4 linked regions of the Homo sapiens genome follow. The protein of the gene in region 1 binds, or shares a complex with, the protein of each later gene. Each region holds a gene or a part of one and is shown on either strand. Other genes may lie near its edges. The genes, in order: STRAP, SNRPD1, GEMIN5 and GEMIN4.

Region 1 (7,034 bases):
ATCCATAAATATTTTAATCCATGGAACCTAATGAGAAAATGTATAGATTAGGAGCACTGTTATATTCAAGTAGTACCTTTAAGTATGAACCTTTCTCATTTACTTTCTAATGCCTCATCACCTTATTAGTTCTCAAAGCCCTTTACTAGACCAATGTTCCTATTCTGTCTCCCATCTGTGTCCCACCAGAGAATAGAAAAGTTGTAAGAGTACAAAGAACACAAGGTTTTGGAAAGAGAAAGGCTAGGCAGATCTGGTATTCACTGTGACTTCAGATCTTGGGCAAATAATTCAGTTCTCTCAATCTTGAAAAAGAATAAAATATGAAACCAAAAACATTCTAAAACTTTGAAAACTAGCATTAAATAAAAGTAACAGAAAAGAATATCTTATTTATAAATCACTTGTATTCAAGTAATAAAAACTGAACCATAAGCAATTAAAATAGATTCTACATGGTCCATCACCAAGGTTCCATTTGTGCAACCCAGATGCATCAATGTTCCCCAAGAAACAAAACGTAAAATTGTCTTTTGTTCTTTGGGTGTAATCTAGCAAGCTTCGTTCTTTGGTAAAGCAGGGCAGCTAGAAACAGACAAGAACAAGAAGAGACAGCTTATAGATAAAAATATATATTTATAAAAACTAAACATATTTTTGACCTAAAAGCAAAAACTATTTGGAAAGGCTAAAAGTAGATACTGAGAACCACATGTAACTATGTGAAATACCTGGTCCATCAGATAAATATACATTAACTTCAAATTAATCCCCATGCCTTTCCCTTTCCCTTACTAAGGACTGTTATCATGAAAATGAAAGCAAAACTCAAACTCCAAAACAGAATAAATAAAAAGCTGATAAAAATAACTATCCAATTCAGATTCCTAAAGGTATCCCTGTAATATGCTATACTGATTTTTCCCCCACACACTGTTCTTTACGGAGTCTTAGGAATTCCTAAGTTGGCAAAAAGGAAGACGGGCCAAGTAGATGGGGTTATACACCCACAACATAGTTCAGAAAGAACGGATCTCCTTGCATGTGTTTAGCATATGACTTTGACATAAGATTCCCCCCTCCCTCCCAGCCAATAAAGCCTAAAACTCACTGTACCATAATACATAACATCAGCATAATGATGAACTTTAGTTAAAAGGATAAATTTCTGCATACTTTGTTTACAGATCTATAAAAGCATCTGACCCAAATGGTTAAAACTCCTTTACTTTTTCACTTGTAAGCACCAAGCTTAAGTTAGCTGAAAAATTTACTTTCAACATATATATGTAACATATATATATATATAAATGAGGTGTTAATTACTGGGACTTAACATATGATAAAGGTAACCACATCACTGTAAGGGGACAACTCACCTAATTCTTCTCCACTATTATAATCATACTTATAAAGTTTAAAATCTTCACCGCCTGCAACAAGAAATTCTTTCTCAGGATGAAGAGATGCAGAATTGATGGTTGCAGGAGCTTCAAAGGATTTAATTGGGTCCAAACTGAAAAAAAATTTAAGTAGTATTTACAAATCTTGAATATGGTATAAATAACGAGTTACATTTGAACTGTTCTTAAATTCTGAAACCCAAGGAACAATTAAATACTCATTTACTCAAACATAAACACTGATGTAAAAAAAGCTGTTAGCAAAAAAAAAAAAAAAAAAATCAAATGGATACTATGCCCAAGTGGAGCTCATCTCAGCAATACAAAGACATCTTGATGGAGGGATATCCAGTTTATGCAGTGGATGTCTTCCCGGAAATGAGTGTGTTGGCTAATTAAAACAGTATGAATAATACACTGGGATTTTTGCTCTTAAATAAACTTCACCTGTATTGTTTCATTTTTCTACAACCACATATTATCTTTGTAAACAGAAAAAGTTTTCACAGTAGGTAATTAACATAAAGGATTATTTATATATTATTATTAATTGCTGAAGGTTTAAGCTCCTCAGCAAGATAAACTTTCTATGTCATAAAATATAAACTGCTGAAAACAGTTTCTACTATAAGGCAGTAAAAGACTAACAAAATTTGGGGCTATAGTTATATAATAAAAATCAATGCATAATAACAGCTTCATCTGAAATTCAATTACAGTTTGGACATTAGCTTTTTCAGTTTAACCCTAAAAATCATGAAAGGCCTCCAATACAAAACATTATAGTATCCCAGCTCCTAAATACTTCCCATCATCATATACTTTAAAGCATGTTAATTAAAGTTAGTCATGACTTATGCAGGATCACTACATAGCAACTTGCTGGCTCAAATGCTAGAATATTCAATGGTCCAGAAAATTTCTGCCACCAACATGGGATTTGCCTAACTGCAGGAGTGAGTGAAGAGCATTAATAAACCAATTGATGGCTCCAGGCCATAGTATTCTACTACTATCAGTTTACTGTATGTGTATAAACTCCTTGACATTGCTTAATTGCTCTCCTCCAATTTTACCGCCTTTTCTTTCTCCCAGTTAGCCCTTTAGACACAAGGTTAAGACACTGGTCAAATATCAAAGTGTAATGTGGTATAATCCTTATGGAAATCAATTAAGTGTCATGTATAACTAAGAACTTTAAACTCATTTCTAGCCTTTGAACTGATAATTCTACTTACAGGATCCTATCTACTGTAAAGAAACACTCAGAGATGTGCTAGAACATTCACCGTGGTGCTAAAACAGGGAAACTAACCCATAATTTAGTACAACCTATGATGCAAATACAGTGTATCAAGTAAAAATGTTTTCAAAGAAGTTTTAAATGGCTAACAATATTTTTAAACAAATCAAAATGGTATTCATTATGGTCCTAGTAATTAAAAAAAAAAACACAAATACTGTACACCCACATATATAACATAGAAAAATGGACTAGCAGAAAATATAACTACCATTATCACTCTTGCACCTATGGGTATAATATTGTGGGTACATTTTTTTCAATTATGTTATATATTCCAGTCTTTCTCCAAGAGTATTTACTACATTTAAAGTCGCAAAATTCAAATCTGTTTAAAAAATTCATTAAGTCTGCAAATACTCAGGAACAGAAATAAGATTATTCCTTCTCTAAAACTTTAAGGTGAAAATAAATAGTAGAATCAAGATCACACTGTTTTTTTGTTTTTTGTTTTTTTTGAGACAGAGTCTCACTCTGTTACCCAGGCTGGAATGCAGTGGTGTGACCACAGCTCAAAACAACCTCCACCTCCTGGGATTAAGCAATTCTCCTGCCTCAGCCTCCCAAGTAGCTGGGATTACAGGTACTCACCACCACACCCAGCTAATTTTTCTTCTCTTTGTATTTTTATTTTAGAGACGGGGTTTCACCATGTTGGCCAGGCTGGTCTCAATCCCCTAACCTCAAGTGGTCCGCCCACCTCAGCCTCCCAAGGTGCTAGGATTACAGACGTGAGCCACCACGCCCAGCCCACACTGGTTTTATATAGTAAAAAACATTAATGACAGCACCATTTCAGTAGTTTTTGCTTTTTTTTTTTTTTTTTTTTCAGAGGAGGTTTTGCTTTGTCATCCAGACTGGAGTGCAGTGTCAAGATCACAGCAAAATGCAGCCTCAACCTCCCAGGCTCCAGCAATAGAATACTCACCTCAGCCTCCCAAGCAGCTGGACTACAGGCGTGTGCCACCACACCCAGCTAATTTTATTTTTTGTAGAGATGGGGGTCTCACTGTGTTGCCCAGGCTGATCTCAAGCCATCCTCCCACCTCAGCTTCCCAAGGTACTGCGATTATAGGCATAAGCCACCACTCCTGGCCTCTTTACTTTTAAAAAAAGTAAATACCTTCCCATTTTTAAGTAGCCAAAATGTCTTTTGTTACCTAAAAAAGAAAATGAAAGTATTTCTTGGACATACCTTACTGCACTATGAAAAGCAATAGATCGTCCATAAGTTATAACCAAAATCTCTCCCTCAGGAATATATTCCATACTACTAACAGACATATTAAAATTTAGAGATTTCACTTCTGTCATAGTAGCATGATCCCAAAGTCTGCAAAATAAAGATAAAAATATGATGTTTACTCATGTAAGAAAAAAGTTTATAAATTCTAATTACATCTGCAGATTAGCCAACGAAAGAACAATCACAATTACAGAAAAACAACATTCATTCCAAGTCACAAATTACAGATGATTAAAAAAAATTCTGGGTTTCTATATACAATGTCAAATTATGCATGATAGCTTGTAAGTAAAATCAACTTTAATACCTACATACACTTCCCAATTTGGCAAAACTACATTATTAAGACAAGTTCTAATCTAGTCAATTTCAGCATTGCTATAAATAGTGGTTCTTACACTCTGTTTTTGTGAATCTAGTAATAGCTACACATCTTTCCAAAGAAATATACATCAGGTGTCAGCACACAAGATTTTGTATAGAATTTCAGAGGCTTCATGGTCCCTCCCTTTAACCATTCTGCCCACAGACCCAGGTTAAAAACACCTGCTTATAAGGTATCAGCAATTTAATTTTCTTCTGAATTTTGCTGTCTGTATACACAAGGTGAGCATCCCTTAATTGAAAATACTTGGGACCAGAAAAAAGTTGGATTTCAAACTTTTTCGGATTTTGGAATATTTGCATTAGACACTTACCAACTGAGAATTCCTAACCTGAAAATAGGAAATTCAAAATGCTCCAATGAGCATTTCCTTTAAGCATCAAGTCGGCACTCAAAGTCTCAGATTTCAGAGCGTTTCAAATTTCAGATTTTCAGGTTAGGGATACTCAACCTGTATTAGTAAATAGATAGCTCCAGATAAATGTGACCTGGGTGCAACTTAAATTTTAATGTTCAGAACATTTTTCACACATAATATTAAATGTATTTAAAATATAAGCTCTAAGGTAAAATATTTTGCAAATTTTAAGTTTGTTTTTCTTTTGAGACAGTCTAGCTCTGTCGCCCAGGCTAGAGTGCAATGGCACGATCTCGACTCACCGCAACCTCTGCCTCGCAGGTTCAAGTGATTCTCCTGCCTCGGCCTCCCGAGTAGCTGGGATTATAGGTGTGTGCCACCGCGCTTGGCTAAGTTTTGTAATTTTCATAGAGACAGTATTTCGCCATGTCGGCCAGGCTGGTCTAGTACTCCTGACCTCTAATGATCCACCCGGCTCGCCTCCCAAAGTGCTGAGATTATAGGCGTGAGCCACCATGCCCGGCCTTAAATTGTAAATTATTAAAGAAAAATTACTTACCGAACAGTTTTGTCATCAGCAGAAAGAATCTGTTTATCCTCACTGCACCACAGAGCTTTTTTTATACCAGAAGTATGACCACTAATTTCCTTAGGTTCTTGAGATAAAACAATTTAAAGTACATTTGTTAATATATGATTTTTTAAACTGAACAATATCGGAACAATTATATATTTTTAAAAACACACATTTTAAATTAGACTGCAACTTTTCAAAGCCCAGCCCAATTCAAACTTGATGTTTATATAGAATACAGTTAGTTTTTCTATATTGGAACATAAATTTATCTGCATGACAGGGACCCAAGGAACTACCATGCTTGCTATATGTAGCTGAGTGAATGCACCACTCACTCCCTCTAGGCTAAATTTCTGCACAACTGATAATATTCAAAAGCATTATTGTATAATAAATAAAAAGTATTTTATATTTATTATATGTATAATAAATATAAAAGCATTATTGTATAATTGTATAAGTATAATAAATATAAAAGCATTATTGTATAATATACAATATTTATTTGTACAATAATACAAATATTATTGTATAATATAAAAGCATTATTGTATAATTGTATAAGTATAATAAATATAAAAGCATTATTGTATAATAAATAAAAAGTATATATTTATTATATGTATAATAAAAAGAATTTTATATATAATAAAAAGTATATATTTATTATATGTATAATAAATAAAAAGTATTTTATATATAATAAAAAGTATTTATTATATTATTAATAAAATAATTAACGTGGCATAATTTAATAAGAACACGGACTCAGGAACAAAACAGTTGAATCTGATTGCAGTACTATGGCTAACTCTGGGACGTTTATCCAAGCAGCTATTGATAGTAAATAATGAGAAATAAGGGTTGGAAGGAAAAAAGGGAAATAGAAAGTGGGACAGCAATTCCCAAGAATGTTTCTACACTGTGAGGAAAACATAAAAAAAAAGGAAGGGAGCTTAAATCTGTAGGAGATTATCCTTTCGAAGAACTTCAAAAAACCCTCACTGCTGTCTCTAGGGGCAAAAGCAGACACTGGAGGCAATGCCATTCAACACTATTTTCACCTTTGGGCATGTTACTTAACTTTTTAACTTTATTTCCTCATCTGTAAAATGAGATAACAATGGTTACAAATGCGAATAGGGCTTAACAGATACCCGATACACAGTAAAACCTCATTTTATTTTCTGCTGCCAGCACAGCGAAAGAGCAACTTTCATAAAACAGCTTTGGGAAAGGTAAAGAGCATGAAAAATGTCAACCCAATCCCTGAACTACCTTGCTTTGACCCAATCCCTGAACTACCTTGCTTTGTTGAATGGGTTCATAGAAGAAGTGAGGTCAGAGTCCTTTGCTATGTTTTGGCATAGATTTATCAAAAAAGAAAGGAGAAAAAAACTTCTACATGCAATGGAGAATAAAAAAATCTGCAAATGCGCTTTGTTTCCTCACCTTAAAAATGTTTTCATAACAAATTACTGTAACATTAAAATGTAAAATATTTTAAAAAGTTCTCAGAAATGGAAGGTATCTCAAGAGAATAACCGCTTAATTTCCAATGTGGTTCTGACTCTCTTATTACTCTTTAAAATTTTATAGATTTATGACTACATAAATGTCCACATAATAAAATCTGAAAGATACCAAATATATAATAAAACAAAATTATGTTTGTCATGTTTTGGTAGCTAAGTATATATATGGTGAGGGAAATTATTAAAATATTATAAAATAAACATGTAGACTGGGGAAGACACCTATA
Region 2 (7,034 bases), on another chromosome or scaffold:
TCATTTTTATTACTGGATATTAGTGCATTGTGTGTTTGGAAGTTCTGTATTTTAGGCCGGGCGCAGTGGCTCACGTCTGTAATCCCAGCACTTTGGGAGGCCGAGGCGGGTAGATCACCTGAGGTCAGGAGTTTGAAACCAGCCTGACCAACATGGTGAAACCCCATCTCTACTAAAAATACCAAAAAAGTAGCTGGGCATGGTGGCAGGTGCCTGTAATCCCAGCTACAAGGGAGGCTGAGGCAGGAGAATCCCTTGAACCCAGGAGGTGGAGATTGCAGTGAGCTGAGATCACGCCATTGCACTCCAGCTTGGGCAACAGAGCGAGACTCCGTCTCAAAAAAAAAGAAAAAAGAAAAAAAAAGCTCCGTATTTTAAAAAATTACAAGAAAATAAAATAAAAAGTTATGTATTTTGTTTACAACTACGTTGAATATTCTTCAGGTTTTTGGAGGGAAACAAATTTTCGTGGGTAAATACTCGAGTGGAGTTGATGGACTGTAACATAGTTATGTGTTTAGCTTTTTAAGAAATTTCCAGACCATTTTCCAAAGTGGTTGTACCATTTTACACTTCCATTAACAATATATTAGAATAACAATTGGTCCACATCCTCACCAGTATGTGGTGTTGTTTGCTCAGTCTTTAATTTTAGCCATTTTAGTGGGTATGTAGTGGTATCTCCTTAGGGTTTAGTCGGTTTTTTGCTTATTTGTTTGTTTTTGAGGCGGAGTCTCACTCTGTCACCCAGGCTGGAGTGCAGTGGCATGATCTTGGTTCACTGCAAGCTCCGCCTCCTGGGTTCACGCCATTCTCCTGCCTCAGCCTCCCGAGTAGCTGGGACTACAGGCGCCTGCCACCACGCCCGGCTAATTTTTTGTATTTTTAGTAGAGACGGGATTTCACCGTGTTAGCCAGGATGTTCTCAATCTCCTGACCTCGTGATCCGCCCGCCTTGGCCTCCCAAAGTGCTGGGATTACTGGCGTGAGCCACTGCGCCCAGCCCAGAGTTGTAGAAATTAGATCTGTGTCCTGGATACCAGTTCTTTGTCAGATGTGTTTTCTCTCAGTGTGTGGTTTACATGTTCATTTCCTTAATAGTGTCTCTCTTCTTGTAGCTCAGGCTGGAGTACAATTGTGCGATCTCAGCTCACTGCAACCTCTGCCTTCCAGGTTCAAGCGATTCTCCTACCTCAGCCTCCCAAGTAGCTGGGATTACAGGCGCCTGCCACCACGCCTGGCTAATTTTTGTATTTTTAGTAGAGACAGGGTTTCACCATGTTGGTCAGGCTGGTCTCGAACTCCTGACCTTGTGATCCACCCGCCTTGGCCTCCCAAAGTACTGGGATTACAGGCGTGAGCCACCATGCCTGACTGATCGATTTTTATGTATCTGGAACTCTTTAAGTCTTTTTTTTTTTTTTTGAGATGGAGTCTTGCTCTGTTGCCAGACTGGAGTGCAGTGGCGCACTCTCGGCTCACTGCGACCTCCACCTCCCAGGTTCAAGTGATTCCCCTGCCTCAGCCTCCCGAGTAGCTGGGACTACAGGCATGTGCCACTATGCCTGGCTTATTTTTTTTGTATTTTAGTAGAGATGGGATTTCACCACTTTGGCCAGGCTGGTCTCGATCTCCTGACCTTGTGATCTGCCTGCCTTGGCCTCCCAAAGTGCTGGGATTACAGGCGTGAGCCACTGTGCCCAGCCTATATCTGGAACTCTTGGGCTCAAGTGACTATCATCCATCTTGGATTACTTTTGGAAAATGGTGTTAGTGGTCCAGGTTCGTTTTTTTTCTGTATGGATTTCCAGTTATTCCAGCATCATTTGTTGAAAACACTTTCCTTTGCCTGTTACACGTCTTTGGCACCTTTGTAAAAAATCAACCATATAAGGCCAGGCTTGGTGGCTCATGCCTGTAATCCCAGCACTTTTCGGAATCCAAGGCAGGCAGATCACCTGAGGTCAGGAGTTCGAGACCAGCCTGACCAACATGGTGAAACCCCGGCTCTACTAAAACAAAAAGAAATACAAAAATTAGCTGGTTGTGGTGGCGAGTGCCTGTAATCCCAGCTAAATCAACCATGTAAATGTGGGACCAGAAATAGATCTGTTTGCTTGTATTGTTTCATTGATCTATTTGTTGTTCCTTATGTCTCGATTACTGTAGTTTTAACTTGTATATGTACTGCTCTAGTCACATAATTTGTCTTCCTAGAGATTATACTTTGGTCTCTTGTCTTTCTAAAATCTGTTTCTGAACATTGGCCCTAGGTTCTCTTTTAAATGTGAATATGAGCCTGGTACTCCACTTCATTGATGAAAATCCTTCAGTAGCTCTCCTAGAGGAATTCTTTAACAGAGCTTAGGCTTTCCATGAAAGGAACCTGCCTAACTCCTCTCTACTCATAGGACCTAAAATATTGAACTTAACATTTCATCGGCCAGGCGTGGTGGTTCATGCTTGTCATCGTAGCACTTTGTGAGGCCGAGGCAGGCAGATCACTTGGGCCAACATGGTAAAACCCCGTCTCTACTAAAAATACAAAAATTAGCTGGGTGTGGTGGCATGCGCCTGTAGTCTCAGCTACTTGGGAGGCTGAGGCACAAGAATCTCTTGAACCCGGGAGACGGAGGTTGCAATGAGCTCAGATTGAGATTGCGCTATTGCACTCCAGCCTGGGCAACAGAACAAGACTCCATCTTTGTATCTATAATTACTCTGTGTCTTATGCTGTATTTTTTCTTTTGTTTCTTCTTGCTGCATATTTCCAACTTTTCAGGCTTCTTACTAGGAGTCCCCTAATACCTGACTCCCCTCTCCACATGCTACAATATATTCTTAGTAAAAAACCTGTGTGTAGCTGGGTGCAGTGGCTCACGCTTGTAATCCCAGCACTTTGGGAGGCCAAGGCAGGCTGATTGCTTGAGCTCAGGAGTTTAAGACTAGTCTAGGCAACATGGCAAAACCACATCTCTACAAAAAATTTAAAAATTTAAAAAATATTAGCCGGGCATGGTGGCATAGTCTCAGAAAAAACCTAAACTAAAAACCTCTGTTTAAAAAAAAACACAAAAAAAACCTCTGTATATCTTTATTGCTTTCTACAACTTAGTTATTTTTACGTATCTTTTATGTATCTGAGCCACCGCGCCTGGCCACATAAGGTTTTTTTTTTCCTTTTATTTATCTTCTTTGCTTCCAAAAATGATTTGAAGAACTTTTATAGTAAAAGTTCTTACTAACTGGGATAGTAAATTCGTGTAAAAGATAAAAACAAAAACTTGATAATGGGAGGAAACCATTAGTTCAGAATTCTAGGCTTTTCTAGTTATAATTGATTGTTAAATTTGGAGCTGAATAACTCTCTGGTGAAATAAAGTGTTACCAATTCGTTGAGAAAAACGTTTTCTTGATGTCATATATAAAAAGAGATTCAACTCATGAGTCTTCTTAAAGTTTGAGGCTTGTTATATCCCAGACCAAGTAATTTCTTTTTTGTGATGGCTGTCTATACCACTAAAAAAAAAGAAATTAAAAAAAGGCATTTTAAGGTTGGTTTCCCTTTATTCATTAAAACATTTCAGCCAACATTATTCAGTGCCTATTACAGTCTAGGATTAGATATAGAGCTTACGATCCCTACCCTCAAGAATAGTCTAGTGCGGGAGGATAATAGGTTATCTTATGTGTACCATTTAGTGTGATGATAGGATCTGTTAATTCAAAGTATATATTATAGACTAAAAGTTTTTATATGAACTGTGTATTGTATGATAGTGTGGGGTTCATTTTCTTAGATGTGATTGTGAGATTATGGTTATATAGGAGAATGTCATTAGAAAATGCATGCTGAAGTGTCGTAATGCCTACAACTTACTTTGAGATGGTGTGATCAATTTTTTTTCGTTTGTTTTTTTGACAAAGTCTCACTCTATTGTCCAGGCTGGAGTTTAGTGGTGCAGTCTTGGCTCACTGCAACCTCTGCCTCCCAGGCTCAAGCAATTCTCCTGCCTCAGCCTCCCCAGTAGCTGGGATTACAGTCAAGTGCCACCAAGTCTGGCTAATTTTTTTGTATTTTTAGCAGAGACGGGGTTTCGCCATGTTGGCCAGGCTGGTCTCGAACTTCTGACCTCAGGTGATCCGCCTGCCTCGCCCTCCCAAAGTGCTGGGATTACAGGGATGAGCCACCACACCTGGCGAAGACTGTCTTTAAAAAAAAGGGCCAGGCCTGGTGGCTTACGCCTGTAATCCCAGCACTTTGGGAGGCCAAGGTGGGCAGATCACCTGAGGTCAGAAGTTCGAGACCAGCCCAACGGGTGAAACCCTGTCTCTACTAAAAATACAAAAATCAGCCAGGTGTGGTGGCAGGCGCCTGTAGTCCCAGCTACTTGGGAGGCTGAGGCAGGAGAATTGCTTGAACCCAAGAGGTGGAGGTTGCATTGAGCCAAGATCATGCCACTGCACTCCAGCCTGGGTGACAGAGCGAGACTCCGTCTCAAAAAAAAATAGAATTTTAAAAAAAGACGGAGTCTTGCTCTGCCACACAGGCTCCAGGGCAGTGACACAGTCATGGCTCATTGCAGCCTCAAAGTCCTGGGCTCTAGCGATCCTCCCACCTCAGACTCCGAGGAGCTGAGACTACAGGCATGAGCCAACAGGCCCAGCTAATTTTTTTATTTGTATTTTTTTCGAGATGGAGTCTTGCTCTGTCACCCAGGCTGCAGTGCAATGGCATGATCTTGGCTCACTGCAACCTCTGCCTCCCAGGTTCAAGCGATTCTGCTGCCTCAGCCTCCTGAGTAGCTGGGATTACAGACCTGCACCACCACACCTGGCTAATTTTTTGTATTTTTAGTAGAGATGGGATTTCACCATATTGGCCAAGCTGGTCTCCAACTCCTGACATTGTGACCCGCCCACCTTGGCCTCCCAAAGTGCTGGGGTTACAGGCATGAGCTACCGCACCCGGCCAACTAATTTTTTTTTTATTTTTATTTTTGTAGAGACAGGATCTTGCTTTGTTGACCAGGCAGGTCTCGAACTCCTGGCCTCAAGTGATCATCCCACCTTGGCCTCTCAAAGTGGTGAAATTACAGGCATGAGCCACTGCACTGGCAATTGACAATATTTGTAAACCCTTTAACTTTTCATCCTCTGCAAAATTTTATAAAAAGGGGAGAACGGAAATTTAGATGAAGTGAGAAGTGGATAGATTGTTCATTATATATTATCAAGGCAACTGGCTATTCAGTTGGGGAAAGTAATAAAGACAGATTTGTGCCTTACACTGCATAAAAAAGATCAATTCCAAGTAGATTAGAACTCTAAAAGTAGAAGAAAATAAGACACTATTTTTTTACAATCTTGGCATAGAAAAAACCCTTTCTTAGGTAAATTATGTATCCCAGGAGGGTGAACAAATTCAAAACATAAAAGTGAAAAAAGTTTGTGTGACTAAAGAAACCATAAACAACAAACTTGAATGACTGGCAAACCAGTAGAAAATAAAAGAAAAACTCAACCTAATTGAGAATGTCAATAATGTGAACAGGTAATTCACGGAAGAAATAGTTTTCCCATGTTAATGAAAAGATATTCAGGCAGGGCGCGGTGGCTCATGCCTGTAATCCCAGCACTTTGGGAGGCCGAGGCGGGTGGATCACGAGGTCAGAAGATCAAGGCCATCGTGGTTAACATGGTGAAACCCCGTCTCTACTAAAAAAAAAATACAAAAAATTAGCCAGGTGTGGTGGCGAGCGCCTGTAATCCCAGCTACTCGGGAGGCTGAGGCAGGAGAATGGCGTGAACCTAGGAGGCGGAGGTTGCAGTGAGCCGAGATTGTGCCACTACACTCCAGCCTGGGTGACAGAGCGAGACTCTGTGTCAAAAAAAAAAGATAAGATATTCAATCTCACAGGTAATTAAGGAAAAGCAAATTTTTTCCCCATCAAATTGACAAAAATTTGAAAGACTTATAGCAACTTGTGTTGGTGAGGGTTTGCATAATTGGGTTTGTAATGGGAAAAAATTGAACCAAAGTAATGTCCGTCAACAGGCGGTAATAAATTTTGACATTTCCATATAGTGGAATACTTTCCAGTTCTTAGAATGTTATTTTGTTATTTTGGCTTTTTGTGAGATGGAGTCTTGCCCTGTCACTCAGGCTGGGGTACAGTGGAACAATCTCACCTCACTGCAAATGCTGCCTCCCGGGTTCAAGCGATTCTCATGCCCCAGCCTTCCAAGTAGCTGGGATTACAGGCGTGCGCCACCTTGCCTCGCTAATTTATTTTTATTTTTTTTTAATTTTTTTTGAGATGGAGTCTTGCTCTGTCCCCAGGTTGGAGTGCAGTGGTGCGATCTTGGCTGACTGCAATCTCTGCCTCCCAGGTTTAAGCGATTCTCCTGCCTCAGCCTTCTGAGTAGCTAGGATTACAGGCGTACGCCATCCTGCCCAGCTAATTTTTGTGTTTTTGTAGAGATGGAGTTTCACCATGTTGGCCAGGCTGGTCTTGAATTCCTGACCTCAGATGATCCGCCCTCCTCGGCCTCCCAAAGTGCTGGGATTATAAATAGGCATGAGCCATCACGCCCAGCCTCAGTTCTTAGAATGTTTTGTATGTTGAAATGGAAATATGTCCAATATAAACTGCTAAACGAGGACTACAAGTTATAGACGTGAATAAAATATGACCCAATTTATGTCAAAAGAAATCTGTATATATCCTTCTGAATGCATATAAAGTGATCTGGAATAATATTCCTACATACCCACAGTGCAGGGGGTTAGGAAGGGAGATTTTTACTTTATAGGCATTATAATAAGCTTGTAATCTTTTTACCGACTGTAATTCTTTATTTCTTTTTTTTTTTTTGAGACGGAGTCTCGCTCTGTTGCCCAGGCTGGAGTGCAGTGGCGTGATCTCGGCTCACTGAGAGCTCTGCTTCCCAGGTTCACCCCATTCTCCTGCCTCAGCCTCCCGAGTAGCTGGGACTACAGGTGCCCGCCACCATGCCCAGCTAATTTTTTG
Region 3 (7,085 bases), on another chromosome or scaffold:
GTTTGAATTTCCTTTTTAAAATCTACTAGAGCTACATAGATGGCATGTGCCTGTAATCCCAGTACTTCAGGAGGCTGAGGCAAGAGAATTGTTTCAGCCCTTAAGTTTGAGACCAGCATGGGCAACATAGCAACACTTCATCTAAAAAAATAAATAAATAAAAATTAAAAAATTTTTTAAATCCTAAGAGATAGGTACTAACATAACGCTCATATCATAAAAGTGATAACTGAAGCTTATTAAGAATAAGTAACTTTTCCAAGATCACAGTTAAAAAATGGATTCATATACAACTCATCTGTCTGCAAAGCCTATGAACTAAACCAAAATCAATGCTAACAAATGGACAGACCAGAAAATTTACAATCAGATTATCAATTTTCAAATACCGATTTTTTATTTTGGGGAGAAATACAGCGACTACTTACCCTAACCTTTAATGAATGCTTTTGTCCTAAGGCTACAGAATGCTCTGGTATAAAGCTTCAAAATTTCCTACAACTGAGTGGCCTTAGGCAAGTTATTTTACGTTTGGGGACTTCAATTTCCTTGTCTGAAAAACGGGTATAGCAGAACCTACTCGTAGAATGTTATGAGAGTGAGTTAAAGCATATAAACCGCTAAACACAATGTCAGGTACGACGTAAAGCAGAGTTGTCCACAACACGGTCCCTGCCCATGTAAGCAAGTAATCAGAGAGGTAACTTGAAAAGTTGGACGCTTCCATATGGAGATGGAATAGTCTAACCTTGTCCAGAAAGATCACAGTAGACGTTCGGAAATCGCATTTACAATCGCCCTTGGGTTATGGGTAATCCTGATCCCTGTACAGTTTATGCAATAAGGTGGAGAAAAAATAGAGTGACAAAGCAGAGACTCGGGCTGTCTCATTCGCCTCAGTAACCCCAGAGCCTAAAACACAGTTAGGCACGGAGGCGCTCAGTTACCAACTGGCAGAATACTAAAGATGCCTTGGGCCCTTCCGAAACTCCGAAGCGAGAGACTCACCCCAAGGCCAGCTTCCCCCGGCTCCTCAGGTTATGTATCCATAACGCACCTGCAACATCAACACAAGCCGTCAACTCAGATTCCATCTCGACTCCCTTCTGTCGCTTAACCACTAAGAAATCCTTACCCAACTGTCCCAGTACTGCCGCCGCCATCTTTCGCCCTCCCGCTACGGAAGCCGCCGAGTTCAAGCGCCTTCTGGACAGCACGCATGCGCAATACTCTGGATTTCCTGTGGGGCTCTCCCACAAGCAGTACTTACACCCCAGGTGCCGTCACGAAGATCGCAAGCACTGGGCCGGCGCTCGAGGTGTGGTCAGGCGAACCTGGCTTGGGAATGAATTAATTAATAAAGGCCGAAAGCACGTGGGCTTCCGAAAATTCACCTGGATTCAGAAAAACTAAAGTCCCAACTCACAAACTAGAAAGGAGTAGGGGAACAGAATCCGTGAACAAGCCACCTAATCCGGTGGTCCTCAGTTTTCTTATCAGAAATGACTAACCTTAGGGCACAAGCTTGTTGTAAAGATCAGTTGAAATAGTGTGAAAGCTATTTTATTTCATTTTATTGAAACAGGGTCTCTCTCTCGCTTAGGCTGGAGTGTGGTAGCAATGACCTAGTCTCACTGCAGCCTCGACCCCGGGCTCAAGCCACCCTCTTACCTCAGCCTCCCAAGTAGCTGTGACTACAGGCGCACATCACCACGCCCGGCTAATTTTTGTATTTTTTATAGATAAGGAGTTTCCCCAAATTGCCCAGGCTGATCTCGAATTCCTGGGCTCAAGCAATCTGCCCTCCTCGGCCTCCCAAAGTGCTAGGATTAGAGGTATGAGCCACGAAACCTAGCCTAAAATCTCTTTTAAAGAGCAAATAGTTCAAATATGATGTATGCTGTCCTAATCCCTACTAATCTGGTTGACCTTCAAGAATGAGTTTATATTCATCTGGCATTTACTGCCTTATGTCAGGCAGGTATTTCACTAAATCTCATTTATTCCTCACAGCAATCCAACAAGGCATGGATTATCATTTTCCTTCTTCAAATGAGGAAACATATTTAGGATATGTTAAAGTCTCTCAACTAACAACTGGCAAACCAGTGATCAATCTACGACTAGGTGCCTCCAAATTTGTGCCCCTAGACGCCTTCAAATATATGTATTTGACCCCTCTGTATTAGAATAACAGGTAGTTCAGATTGCGGTTTGCTACCTATGCAGGAATGTCAGATACCCAATGCAAACAAGCAACACACGAGTAGTGCAGAATCTGAGCATTTTAGCATTTTTGAGTTGAAAGGAAACTTTCTTCCACACCATTTACCACATACAGCTTCCTTCACACAGCTGGCCCTCAATCAAGCAAATCAAGAGTCACTCCATTTGCTTCTCCTTCATCTTTGAGTACCCAGAACCCAGAGCCAGAATTTCCACCCAGTTGCAGAAACTGTTCTTTCCCTTTTTAATTCCAGATTCGTACTTTCATATTTTTGTTTGTTTTGTTTTTTTGAGACAGGGTCTCACTCTATTGCCCAGGCTTGAGTGCAGTGGCTCGATCACAGCTCACACCAGCCTGTCTCCCGGACTCCATATTGTAATGCCCAACCTTGTTTTTACTAACCCTGTTTTTAGACTCTCCCTTTTTCCTCTGATCACCTAGCCTTGTTTCCACTTGAATTGACTCTTGCTTAGCTAAGAGAGCCAGACAGACTCCATCTTGGCTCTTTCACTGGCAGCCCCTTCCTCAAGAACTTAACTTGTGCAAGCTGACTCCCAGCACATCCAAGATGCAATTAACTGATAAGATACTGTGGCGAGCAATATCCGCAATTCCCAGGAATTCGTCTGATTGATAGCACCCAAAGCCCCCAGTCTATCACCTTGTAATAAATAGTCTTAAAGCCCCTGCACCTGGAACTGTTTACTTTCCTGTAACCATTTATCCTTTTAACTTTTTGCCTACTTTATTTCTGTAAAATTGTTTTAACTAGACTCCCCTCCCCTTTCTAAACCAAAGTATAAAAGAAAATCTAGCCTCTTCTTCCGGCTGAGAGAACTTTGAGCGTTAGCCATCTCTTGGCCACCGGCTAAACAAATGGACTCTTAATTCGTCTCAAAGTGTGGCGTTTTCTCTAACTCACTCAGGTACAACAATATTTTTGTTAAGTGGCCTCTTGTGCATATCTTTTTTTGTTTTGTTTTGTTTTTATTTGAGATGGAGTCTCGCAATGTCGCCCAGGCTGGAGTGCAGTGGCGCAATCTCTGCTCACTGCAACTTCCGCCTCCCAGGTTCAAGCGATTCTCCTGCCTCAGCCTCCCTAGTATTTGTTGTCTAGGGATTGTTGCATTTTACTTTTTTTTTTTTTTTGAGATGGAGTCTCGCTGTGTGGCCAGGCTAGAGTGCAGTGGCGTGATCTCCGCTCACAGCAACTTCCGCCTCCCGGGTTCAAGCGATTCTCCTGCCTCAGCCTCCCGAGCAGCTGGGATTACAGGCGCCTGCCACCACACCCGGCTTATTTTATTATTTTATTTTATTTTTGTTTTTTAATAGAGACGAGGTTTCACTATGCTGACCAGGCCGGTCTTTTAACTCCTGACCTCGTGATCCTCCCGCCTCGGCCTCCCAAAGTGCTGGGATTACAGGCGTGAGCCACCGCACCCGGCCTCTTGTGCATATCTTTAAAACACCTCCACAACTAGCAAAGTGCCCTGGCACATAGCGCTCAAAAAACGTTGGACGGGATAGTGGTTGAACAGCTCCAAATAATAAACTGGTAGCCTGGGGCGGTGGTTCCACTAGTCTAATCCTCTAATTTTGTGCCTTTCTGTGGGAAGTGAGAATGCTTAACCTCGGGGCTGTGCTCAGGCAGCACCTGACCCTAGCCAGGGTTGGGGCGGACCTCCTACCGCGGGCTAGGTACTGAGGGCCAGTGCAGCACGCGTGGTCCCGCCCTTCCCAGCCCGGCGGTAGCGGGAACGCAACGCGCGGTGCTGGCTGGGCCTCGACGCGCACCGTAGCGACTGCCCGAGAAGGCGGGGCTCGGAGTTCACCCCGCCCCGCTCCCTACCTAAGGCGTGAGGCTACGAGCGGTCGGCTGTGGCAGCTTCTCTTGTCTCTGACGGCTTGTAGTTATGGGGCAGGAGCCGCGGACGCTGCCGCCCTCCCCCAACTGGTACTGCGCCCGCTGCAGCGATGCCGTGCCCGGGGGCCTCTTTGGCTTCGCCGCGCGGACCTCCGTCTTCCTTGTCCGCGTGGGCCCGGGCGCAGGCGAGAGTCCAGGGACACCCCCGTTTCGAGGTAACTCACCACCCTTGGGCCCGAGACTTACTGCCCTTTGTACGCTCCCCAGGGGCGCCGAGTGGACGACTCCACCCCGTTTTCTACAGCTAGGGAAACTGAGGCCCAGGCTGGGAGGAGAGGCAGCCCACAGTCACTAAGCTGAGTTGCTTCTGGTCTCCTAATGAGCTACACCATGCTGTGGCCGAGCGGTCCCGCCTCCTGGAGCTTCCACGTGGGGCCGCTTGCTTACTGAAAAGTTAGCCTTGTATAGTCTCGGCCATTTATATGGCTCCCCTGCCCAGCCTGGTGCGCGCCAGCCCCCCGGGAGCCTTCCTGGGGTTGGGGGCTAACCACAGCTGCAGGCCCTAAGCAAGATCCTGCAACGTGTGGCATTCCTTACTGTAAGATGAATGGGTTGAACCAGATGCTTTCAGGCTCCAAACTAGGCTTTGATTGTGCCTTAGGATATGACATGCCAGGTGATTTATTCTGGCCACATCTAAATAAGAGTCACTTTCACATTATTTGAGCTGCTTTCCAGTCTGTGAACTAAGCAGAGCAAGGTATATCAACATTCATTTCACAGTTGAGAAGCTGAGGCTCAGAGACTTGTTCGAAGTCACGTGGCACAGCCAATATCAGCACTTGGGAATTCTGAGTGTAAGTCCGTCGGTGTTTCAGTTATACCATGGGTTAAGTAACTCCAAAGCATCTGCTCACTTGTCATCCAACAACAGTATGATTCTGCCAGGAACCTTGGATAGCACTTCGATTAACCTAGCGTCTGGTTTTGCTTAAAGTCATAGGAGAGTTGGTGGGACACACCGAAAGGGTCTCTGGCTTCACATTTTCTCATCACCCTGGTCAGTACAACCTCTGTGCCACCAGCTCCGACGATGGGACTGTGAAAATATGGGATGTAGAGACAAAAACAGTTGTGACAGAACATGCACTCCATCAGGTACCATGGCTTACTGGTTTCTCAAACCGTTTTTATCTATCTGTGCTGAGGGTTCTTCTGTTGCAAGCTAGTTTTGCTAGCTCATCTGTGCAAAGTAACTTGTAATTGTGTTCATTAATTAGATAAGAAACTATATTGTAAGATGTCTCAACTTTTTTTGAAAGGAGATATATACAAACCAGAGGTTGGCAAACTGCTCTGTGCCTGTTTTTGCAAATAGGTTTTATTAGAATACAACCACACTAATTCATTTAAGTATTGTCTATGACTGCTTTCATGCTACAAGAGTTGAGTAGTTGCAACAGGCATGGTATGGCCCACAAGGTCTAAAACAATTACCCTCTGGTTATTGATACAAATGGACTCCTGATATAGACTGTAAATGCGTGAATGAAACTCATTTCTAAGCTAGATAGTTACTTGATGTACCTGCCTTTTGAGAGAACAAAGGAAAAGACCTACTTAATAAGAACTTTGCATTAAGCTATTTAAAAAATTTTTAATGATTATTTGATCCCCAGTAGTCTAAATCTTCCCACCATTTTGTTAATATCGTGTTGCTATAGAAGTACTACTAATAAGTATTAATTACTTTTTTTTTTTTTTTTGAGACGGAGTCTGGCTCTGTCGCCCAGGCTGGAGTGCAATGGCGGGATCTTGGCTCACTGCAAGCTCCGCCTCCTGGGTTGACGCCATTCTCCTGCCTCAGCCTCTCGAGTAGCTGGAACTACAGGAGCCCACCACCACGCCCGGCTAATTTTTTTATGTTTTTAGCAGAGATGGGGTTTCACCATGTTAGCCAGGATGGTCTCGATCTCCTTACCTGGTGATCCACCCGCCTCGGCCTCCCAAAGTGCTGGGATTACAGGCGTGAGCCACCGCGCCCGGCCGTATTAATTACTTTTAATGTGTATATGTAGCATTATGCTGGTTTGTGATACAAGTTAAAAATTAAGTAGAACTTCAGCATTGACAATAACAAATTTTTGTTTTGTTTTAAAGCATACGATATCAACATTACATTGGTCTCCTCGAGTAAAGGACTTAATAGTATCTGGGGATGAAAAAGGAGTAGTTTTCTGTTACTGGTTTAACAGAAATGACAGCCAGCACCTCTTTATAGAACCCAGGACAATTTTCTGTCTTACTTGTTCACCTCATCATGAAGATTTAGTAGCCATTGGGTAAGTACTATGCCATCTGTATTGATGATTTTTGTTTGTTTATGATCGTGTTTTGCATTTTCTTTACCTTCTCTGTCCTTTTATTCCTCAAAGGAAACCATCTACAGATGTTAACCACTCCCCCTGAGCCCCTGGCATCATTTATTCCTCCAGGTCTTTACTGTCTCTGCCACTCCGTTTTTGTTTCCTTGGTTTCCATGGTACTGTACTTTCTTCGTTTTTCGGATCTAACTCCTCCAATCAACCTTTACGTGTAGGAAATGTCCTCTTTCACCTTTTTCGCTTTCTCTACTGCCCGTTGATACAACATGAACTCCCAGGTGTCAGATGACTTTGCTGGGTCTCTCTAGTTCTGAGCGCTCCCTTTAGATTGGGAAAGTGATGCGGCATTGGGATCTGTTTCCTTGTTGATCACCAAGGTTGTTTCACATGAGCTGCCTGAATATACATCCCCGTTTCTTTCACCATTTCATGTACTTCTCACTGAAAGATGTCTATTTTCTCTAATTTGAAGACTTAAGCAATTTCCCTAGAATGTTGAAGGAGAAATTCTGATTGGAGTGGATTTGAAAGACTGGGGGCTAAGGCAATAGAGATACACAAAGAGACAACAACTCTTTCACAAAGTTTGTTGTAAAAATGTGCATATACA
Region 4 (7,099 bases), on another chromosome or scaffold:
CGTTATCAGTACCAGCTCACATTCCTTTCCTTATTTGGAAAGAGGACTAACTTTCTAGCTCATTACAGACACCCCTTCCCCTTCCTCTCCGCTTTCTTTTACGGGCCCACCCTATCTAAAAAAATCAAATGTTTAGCCAAGCGCGATTAGTTTAGATTGTACGACCTGACCCCGGCCAATGGGGAAAGGGTAGAGGGGCAGGACTTGTGTCAGGAACAAAGGCTCTCGTGCCCCTTTGTTCAGGTGTGCTCTCATGACAACTGGCCAAGGAGGCACCCCTCTGCACAGAAGTAAAATTGCTTTGCTAAGAATCCTTTGTTCGAGTGTTCTATTTCCTTAGGATTTTGAGCATTATTCCTAACAAGTATTTAAAAGGGAAAGAGCAGGAAGGGAGGGAAGAGGGAAAGGAAAAATACAGGAGGGTAGGTAGGGAGATAAGTGGTTACATTCTTATTAGGCTTTGATCAGCGCTCACCAAATCTACATGTCACAGTGAAAGGAGGGGGTAGAGGAACAGTCAGTTTTGCATTCAGCTCAGTAAATCTACATTTAGCACTCACCAAATCTACATGTTACAGTGAAAGGAGCAGGCAGAGGAACAGTCAGTTTTGCATTCAGCTCAGTAAATCTACATTTAGTGCTCACCAAATCTACATGTTACAGTGAAAGGAGCGGGCAGAGGAACAGTTACGCATTCAGCTCAGTAAGTCTACATTTAGCACTCACCAAATCTACATGTTACAGTGAAAGGAGCAGGCAGAGGAACAGTCAGTTTTGCATTCAGCTCAGTAAATCTACATTTAGCGCTCACCAACTCTACATGTTACAGTGAAAGGAGCGGGCAGAGGAACACTCAGTTATGCATTCAGCTCAGTAAATCTACATTTAGTGCTCACCAAATCTACATGTTACAGTGAAAGGAGCGGGCAGACGAACAGTCAGTTATGCATTCAGCTCAGTAAATCTACATTTAGCGCTCACCAAATCTACATGTTACAGTGAAAGGAGCGGGCAGAGGAACAGTTATGCATTCAGCTCAGTAAATCTACATTTACTGCTCACCAAATCTATATGTTACAGTGAAAGCAGCAGGCAGAGGAACAGTTATGCATTCAGCTCAGTACATCTATGTTTTGTCTCGGCTGGTGAGGGATGGTTTCTGGTGTTGTCTTTGTCCCTTACCTATGAAGATAAGCTGTTAATTTATATTGTCAGGTGAGGGAGACCACCTGGGGAGATATGTGGCCTTCTGTCTTGTAGCTTATCTGTTTAGGAACAAAAGGAAGTTTTTTGCATATTCCATGACTCAATTTCCAAGCTTAACTTTTCCTTTTCGCTTAGTGAATTTGGTCCCAAGATTTTATTTTCCTTTCACAGTATACCCCATGCCCATCAATCCCATTCCCCCTGCATCCTATAGGTAACCTCTTCTTAAGCAAATACAAATAGATAAATCCTTATTTTCTGTTTTTTTTTTTAAAACTTTATTTTACTGTTACTTTCTGCTGTCCTAATTATGGCACATTTTTACTTTCTAGGTTCTGTGATTTACAGAGTGGTCTGGCTATGTGGACAGCTTCTAAATTGTCACCACATTTTGGAGCAAGATGTATTATTTTTACAATTAATTTACATTTAACATGAATCATGATCCTAAGTGCATCAGAATGTCTTCATAACATTCGCCAAAGAAGAGAGGGCAGCACTGCTGTTCTACAGTGTGGCTCTCACCTGGTCCACAGTTACCAGAAATAGTTCTTTCGTTGCTGTGATGTCCTGGGTGGGCTTCATTCTTTAGTAATGTACTTTGTCTACAGCAACTTCCTGCAACTATGTGAACAGATCTTGAAGACACACAGTGAGGTTTGGTTTCCTTTGTCCTCTTAAGTCTTTATGGTTGTTGCTTCTATTGTTTATTGGTCCCAGTGAGAACTGCAGCTGACCTGATGTCATGATCTGTGAAGATAGTTTCTATTAAAGAAGAAGTACCAGGAAATCCCATATGCCACCGTAGACCTGCCTTTCTGGATACCATTTACTACTCCATACTCCAGCCGCCATGCACAATGGTTGTGTATGAGGCTCCTGTGATCATTAACAGGAGTAGAAGCTGGGCTCAGACACTCTGGCACTTGCATAGGTCAAGGGGTGTGTTGTGCTCTTGCAACAAATCCCACATAGACATCCATATGCATATTGTCCCACCGTCCCCTAAGCAGAAACCAGGGTTAAGTACAGAATAGTCCCGGGAACATTTTGGTTGCCCGGCCTTAGGTGAGCCTTTCTGGGGCTGGGATTTTGACACCATCTGCTCCATTGTTTCTAAACTGCTGTGTTCTGGCGCATCAATTGTTTCATCACATTATCATCACGGAAAGCTTGGTCTCCCTCAAAACATGAACCGGGTAGGCCCTGTGTTCCAGTGGGGGCTTTTGGACTTGACTTTAGTGTTTAGGAGGACAGAGTCCCTCTCCCCTCTGTGGTGCTGGGGTATTAGTAAATCAGCCTTGAAGAGATAAGGGGCTGGGGCCTCAACCTCCCAAGAGGCTGTCACTGGAGAATGGTCTCCTGCCCTCAGATCTTGGGCATTTCCACAGCACACTGTCCCCCTCGTCCTTCCAAATACCTACATACGCTCTTGTAATAGGAGAGCTGGGAACTCCACCCAAAACCATACAAAAAGTTAGTCTGTGTATTTGGACGCCTCCCCAGCACTCAGTCACCGAGTTTCTCCTTTCCAACAGCAGTCACTCTCATGCAGTTTAAGTGATTTATTGATGTCTCGGCTAAGCTTGCGACAGTTTCAGGACATTTCAGCCATCAAGGTCTAAGAAGCCCTTTCCATTCCCGAGGAGCCCTCAGCCAGCCTCCTTCTTCCTCATCTCCTCACTCTGGCCGCGTAGCCCCTCATGGCGTCCATCTTGGACGCCCCTTTGTTCGCGCTCCACGCCCCCCACTTCCTTCTTCGTCAGCTCCTCCACTTTGGCCGCGTAGCCCCTCATGGCGTCCATCTTGGACGCCCCTTTGTTCGCGCTCCACGCCCCCCACTTCCTTCTTCGTCAGCTCCTCCACTTTGGCCGCGTAGCCCCTCATGGCGTCCATCTTGGACGCCCCTTTGTTCGCGCTCCACGCCCCCCACTTCCTTCTTCGTCAGCTCCTCCACTTTGGCCGCGTAGCCCCTCATGGCGTCCATCTTGCACGCCCCTTTGTTCGCGCTCCACGCCCCCCACTTCCTTCTTCGTCAGCTCCTCCACTTTGGCCGCGTAGCCCCTCATGGCGTCCATCTTGGACGCCCCTTTTTTCGCGCTCCAAGCCTCCCACTTGGCCCTGGCTCTCACGTCTGAGGCCGGAGGGCCGGGGATGTCGCAGTCGCCCTGGGTGGCCTGTTTGTACAAGCCGTAGACCAGCAGCTTCTCCTGATCGCTCACGGGACCCTTCAGCTGCTTGAGGGCCGCGCAGCTCGAACTCCACTTGGCACATGGGGTGGTGGAGGCGGTCCCTGGTGCTAGAAGCTGGAGGTGGAGAGTTGGAGTGGCTGTTACTACTCGATCTCAGGGGGAGGAGACAGGCACGCGATGTTTGTGTTTTGTCAAGCACAGATTGCAAGCTCGGGGTCCAGCGTAAACCCCACCATGTTTGGGCTCACACGGCGCATTTTCTGGGGAGGACCAGCCGTCAAAAAGCGTCTAGGATCCGGAACGCTGCTGTCTGGAGGGGGCGGCGCGGCAGGAGCGCGTTGAGGGACTGTATGTGGCGCGAGCTGGGCGGGTGGGAGTGGAAGCCTCGCGTGGTGCGGCCGCGCTGGGTGGTGGGCGTCCCGGGGGAGGCGCTCGGTGGGGGTGAACTGTGTGCGGGGCACGCCCGGGGTTACCGGGTGAGGGTGAATGCGGGGCCGGGGAATCATGAGCCCGACCCGCTGGGACCCCGGAAGAGGGGCCGGGCAGGGGACGGTGCGGAGGGGTCTAGTGAGCGACGTCCGGGTACCTGAGGGCTGGTGGGAGGGCTCTGCCGGAAGGCGGCGCTGTGCGCTTGGCGCGCTCGTTCGTGAGGACTGCGCGTGCGCGGCGGAGGCTGTGGGCGGGGCCGGGCGGAGGTTGTGAGCAGGCCTAAGCGCGGCCGCCGTGGCTCCTGCGTCTCCCATCGTGCCGTGCGTCCCGCGCCGCGTTCGAGTTCTCGGAGGGGAGGGGGCGTTAGCCCCGCGCAGCCGCCGGCGTCGCCGCCATGGACCTAGGTGGGTGCCGCGGCTCCCCGGCCCCGGGCTGCGTCCAGCAATGCGCCACCAGAGCGGTGCTGCCCCGTCGCGTCTCCTCCTGTCGCGCACGCTCGCGCGGGCCCGGACCGAAACGTCCCCCGCGTCGGGGCGGGTCTAGGGGTCCCGGGGTGGCCTTGGCGGGGGGTGGTCCGGGTCCCGCCGCGCGTTGGGCCGCGTCTTGCCGCCTCCGGCCCCCTGCGCTTGAAAACACGGAGCAGACGTGAAGTTAGAGCCCTTGGAAGCGCCCGGGGCTCGCGCACGTGCTTTGGGAAACGGGCTCCCTCCGAGCACCCCTGGGCGCCCCGACGGCCTCATTTCCTGAACGGCAGCTGCGTTCTTGAGCAAGTGTCTTAACGCTCCAAGTGTCTTACGCTCATGACGTTTCCTCATCGACAGAGCGGGGAGAATGGAAGTGTGTCTCCCCACTGAGTTTTGGGCGACTTTGCATTGAGATCGCCGAGGTACAGTGTCCCTTGTGGGGTTGCGCGGGTCACACCCGCGGTGGGGGCGGCTGCGCTCCTGAGGTATCACTTTGTGAACCTGCGTGCGTCCGGATTCAGAATCTTACAGGCAAGGTCTGGGAGGGAGCCCATAGGAACTAGATGCTCCCTGCTAAATCTTGGCACACGCTGCTAAGACCAGGAGGCTGTTCTGGGAGAGCTGGGGGTGAGGCACCCCGAGATGTGTCAGCAGTAGTAGGCTGGGGGGAAATGGTCTGGTCCCCGCCCCCAGACAGCTTTTCAGGAGCGGAATGGCAGAGCTCTAAGGGCTTGGAGCCCCTCAGCCGTAATTGCTTCCCAGCCCCACCACATTCAGGCTGGGACACCCTCAGCAAATCGTTTCTGCGCCTCAGTGTCCTTATCTCTAGAGCAGGAATACTAGTCCTCAAAAGGTGATTGTGAATAGAAGAGATCTTACCTGTGTACCACCTAGCACAGTGTCTGGCATGGAGTAGGTGCTTAATAAACCTAAGAAGCGGGCTGTGGCAAGCACTAGTTAACCATCCATGATAGAGTACCGGAGTATTTTCCAGCTAGTAACCGCCCTGGGACTTACTACTTCAAACTGTGCGTACTTAATGCGCCTGGAAGGCAGGTGTTTAGGGCCAAACATCTGCTCAACTAAGCCAATAATGCAATAAAATTAAATTTACAGCGTCAGGAGGGACTATATTTTGGGACCCTGGGAGAGCCTCCTGAGCCAGAAAGAAGGGCGGTAACCCCCAGGGAGGTCCCCTTCGCAGCGTAACCCTCCCTGGGAGTCGGTCTCAGCCACTGTGAGATGAGATGGATTGCCTCCACAAGTGGGTTACATAGTGCTGAGCCCTTGGCCTGCTGCCGCTCCCATAAATGGTGGGAGGGGTAAGATGGTCCTTAGTCTCCTGGAGTCAGTGTTTTCTCTGCTGGTGTCTGGCCTGTGAAAATGGGGAATATGAGCTCTTGGGGGCATGACAGACTGAGGAAGGAGTAGCATCTCTCACTCCTGGGAAAGGGGAGATGACTCAGGAATGAGGAATAGGGAGCAGTGTTTGCACCCTCGTTTTAGTTTCTGGGCCAAAGGAAACATACCTGATAAAGACCTACATCCTTTGATGTTTCTGAGCTGGGGGAGGCAAAGAATAGTGACAAGATTCTGGTCTTGCCAACCATGAAAAGGTTTGGGGAAACCAACATTTACTGAGCACCTAATTAGACTCTGTAACTGGATTCTTACTGTAGCTCTATCTCATTTATCCATCATAGCGTCCCGGGGAGATGGGGTCAGGAGATAGCAGTGCCAACCCACTAGCAAGGGCTTGACTGGTATATATCACATGATCCCCAAAGGCATAACATGAAGTCTGTATTATCCCCACATATGCAGAAGGAAGGCTTGGAGAAGCAATCTGACCAAGATCACATCCCTTTTTTTTTTTCGGAGATGGAGGGGGAGTCTCACTGTGTTACCCCAGCTAGTCTTGAACTCCTGGCCTCAGGGATCCACCTGCCTCAGCCCCCCAAGTAGCTGGGATTACAAGTGCTAGCCACTGAACCTGGCCAGAATCACATCATTTTTAAATGGCTGAACTAGGATTTAAACCCATGTCTGATTAAACATCCCAAGATGTTTTCCATGGTAAGTCTGTGTCAATCGTTAGTTCCCTGAAGGAAGGCTTAATCTAGCACAGTATTTTCTGTATCTACTCCCTGGTTTCTCCCACAGAGCTAGGGCCATGAGTACCTTGTTTTTGACTGGAAGGAGCTGTGGGGTGGACCGTTTCCCTGAAAGCTAGAAGAATGTTTGAAGCCTGTTCCCAAGGCAAGTTTATAAAGAGTGAAGGCAGGGCTTGTCTGATTCCTTCTGTGCCCATTGCTCTGTGGCTATGTGATTGCTCTGTGCCCATTACCCTGTGGCTGTGTGACTGCTGCTGTGCCCGTTACCCTGTGGCTGCGTGATTGCTGCTGTGCCCATTACCCTGTGGCTGTGTGATTGCTCTGTGCCCATTATCCTGTGGCCGTGTGATCGCTCTGTGCCCATTACCCTGTAGCCGTGTGATTGCTGCTGTGCCCATTACCTTGTGGCTGTGTGATTGCTGCTGTGCCCATTATCCTGTGGCTGTGTGATTGCTCTGTGCCCATTATCCTGTGGCTGTGTGATTGCTCTGTGCCCATTATCCTGTAGCCGTGTGATTGCTTCTGTGCCCATTACCCTGTGGCTGTGTGATTGCTGCTGTGCCCATTATCCTGTGGCCGTGTGATTGCTGCTGTGCCCATTACCCTGTGGCCGTGTGATTGCTCTGTGCCCATTACCCTGTGGCCGTGTGACTGCTGCTGTGCCCATTACCCTGTGGCCGTGTGATTGCTGCTG

The links.
Region 2: STRAP (region 1) and SNRPD1 share a complex: the UniProt entries of both Homo sapiens proteins name them as parts of the SMN-Sm complex.
Region 3: STRAP (region 1) and GEMIN5 share a complex: the UniProt entries of both Homo sapiens proteins name them as parts of the SMN-Sm complex.
Region 4: STRAP (region 1) and GEMIN4 share a complex: the UniProt entries of both Homo sapiens proteins name them as parts of the SMN-Sm complex.

The regions. Positions count from the first base shown.
Region 1 is NC_000012.12:15,892,364-15,899,397, reverse strand, and holds part of STRAP (serine-threonine kinase receptor-associated protein), read right to left. Parts: intron 5,352-7,034; coding exon 5,255-5,351; intron 4,040-5,254; coding exon 3,902-4,039; intron 1,517-3,901; coding exon 1,380-1,516; intron 1-1,379. UniProt on the Homo sapiens protein: The SMN complex catalyzes the assembly of small nuclear ribonucleoproteins (snRNPs), the building blocks of the spliceosome, and thereby plays an important role in the splicing of cellular pre-mRNAs.
Region 2 is NC_000018.10:21,615,280-21,622,313, forward strand, and holds part of SNRPD1 (small nuclear ribonucleoprotein Sm D1), read left to right. Parts: intron 1-7,034. UniProt on the Homo sapiens protein: Plays a role in pre-mRNA splicing as a core component of the spliceosomal U1, U2, U4 and U5 small nuclear ribonucleoproteins (snRNPs), the building blocks of the spliceosome.
Region 3 is NC_000005.10:154,935,189-154,942,273, reverse strand, and holds the start of GEMIN5 (gem-associated protein 5), read left to right. Parts: upstream 1-4,062; 5' UTR 4,063-4,140; coding exon 4,141-4,306; intron 4,307-5,088; coding exon 5,089-5,249; intron 5,250-6,251; coding exon 6,252-6,433; intron 6,434-7,085. Other genes in the region: MRPL22 (large ribosomal subunit protein uL22m), read right to left, coding at 1,009-1,057, 1,136-1,163. UniProt on the Homo sapiens protein: The SMN complex catalyzes the assembly of small nuclear ribonucleoproteins (snRNPs), the building blocks of the spliceosome, and thereby plays an important role in the splicing of cellular pre-mRNAs.
Region 4 is NC_000017.11:749,265-756,363, reverse strand, and holds the start of GEMIN4 (gem-associated protein 4), read left to right. Parts: upstream 1-4,099; 5' UTR 4,100-4,221; coding exon 4,222-4,231; exon of another isoform or gene 4,232-4,713; intron 4,714-6,115; exon of another isoform or gene 6,116-6,367; intron 6,368-6,454; exon of another isoform or gene 6,455-6,528; coding exon of another isoform or gene 6,529-6,550; intron 6,551-7,099. UniProt on the Homo sapiens protein: The SMN complex catalyzes the assembly of small nuclear ribonucleoproteins (snRNPs), the building blocks of the spliceosome, and thereby plays an important role in the splicing of cellular pre-mRNAs.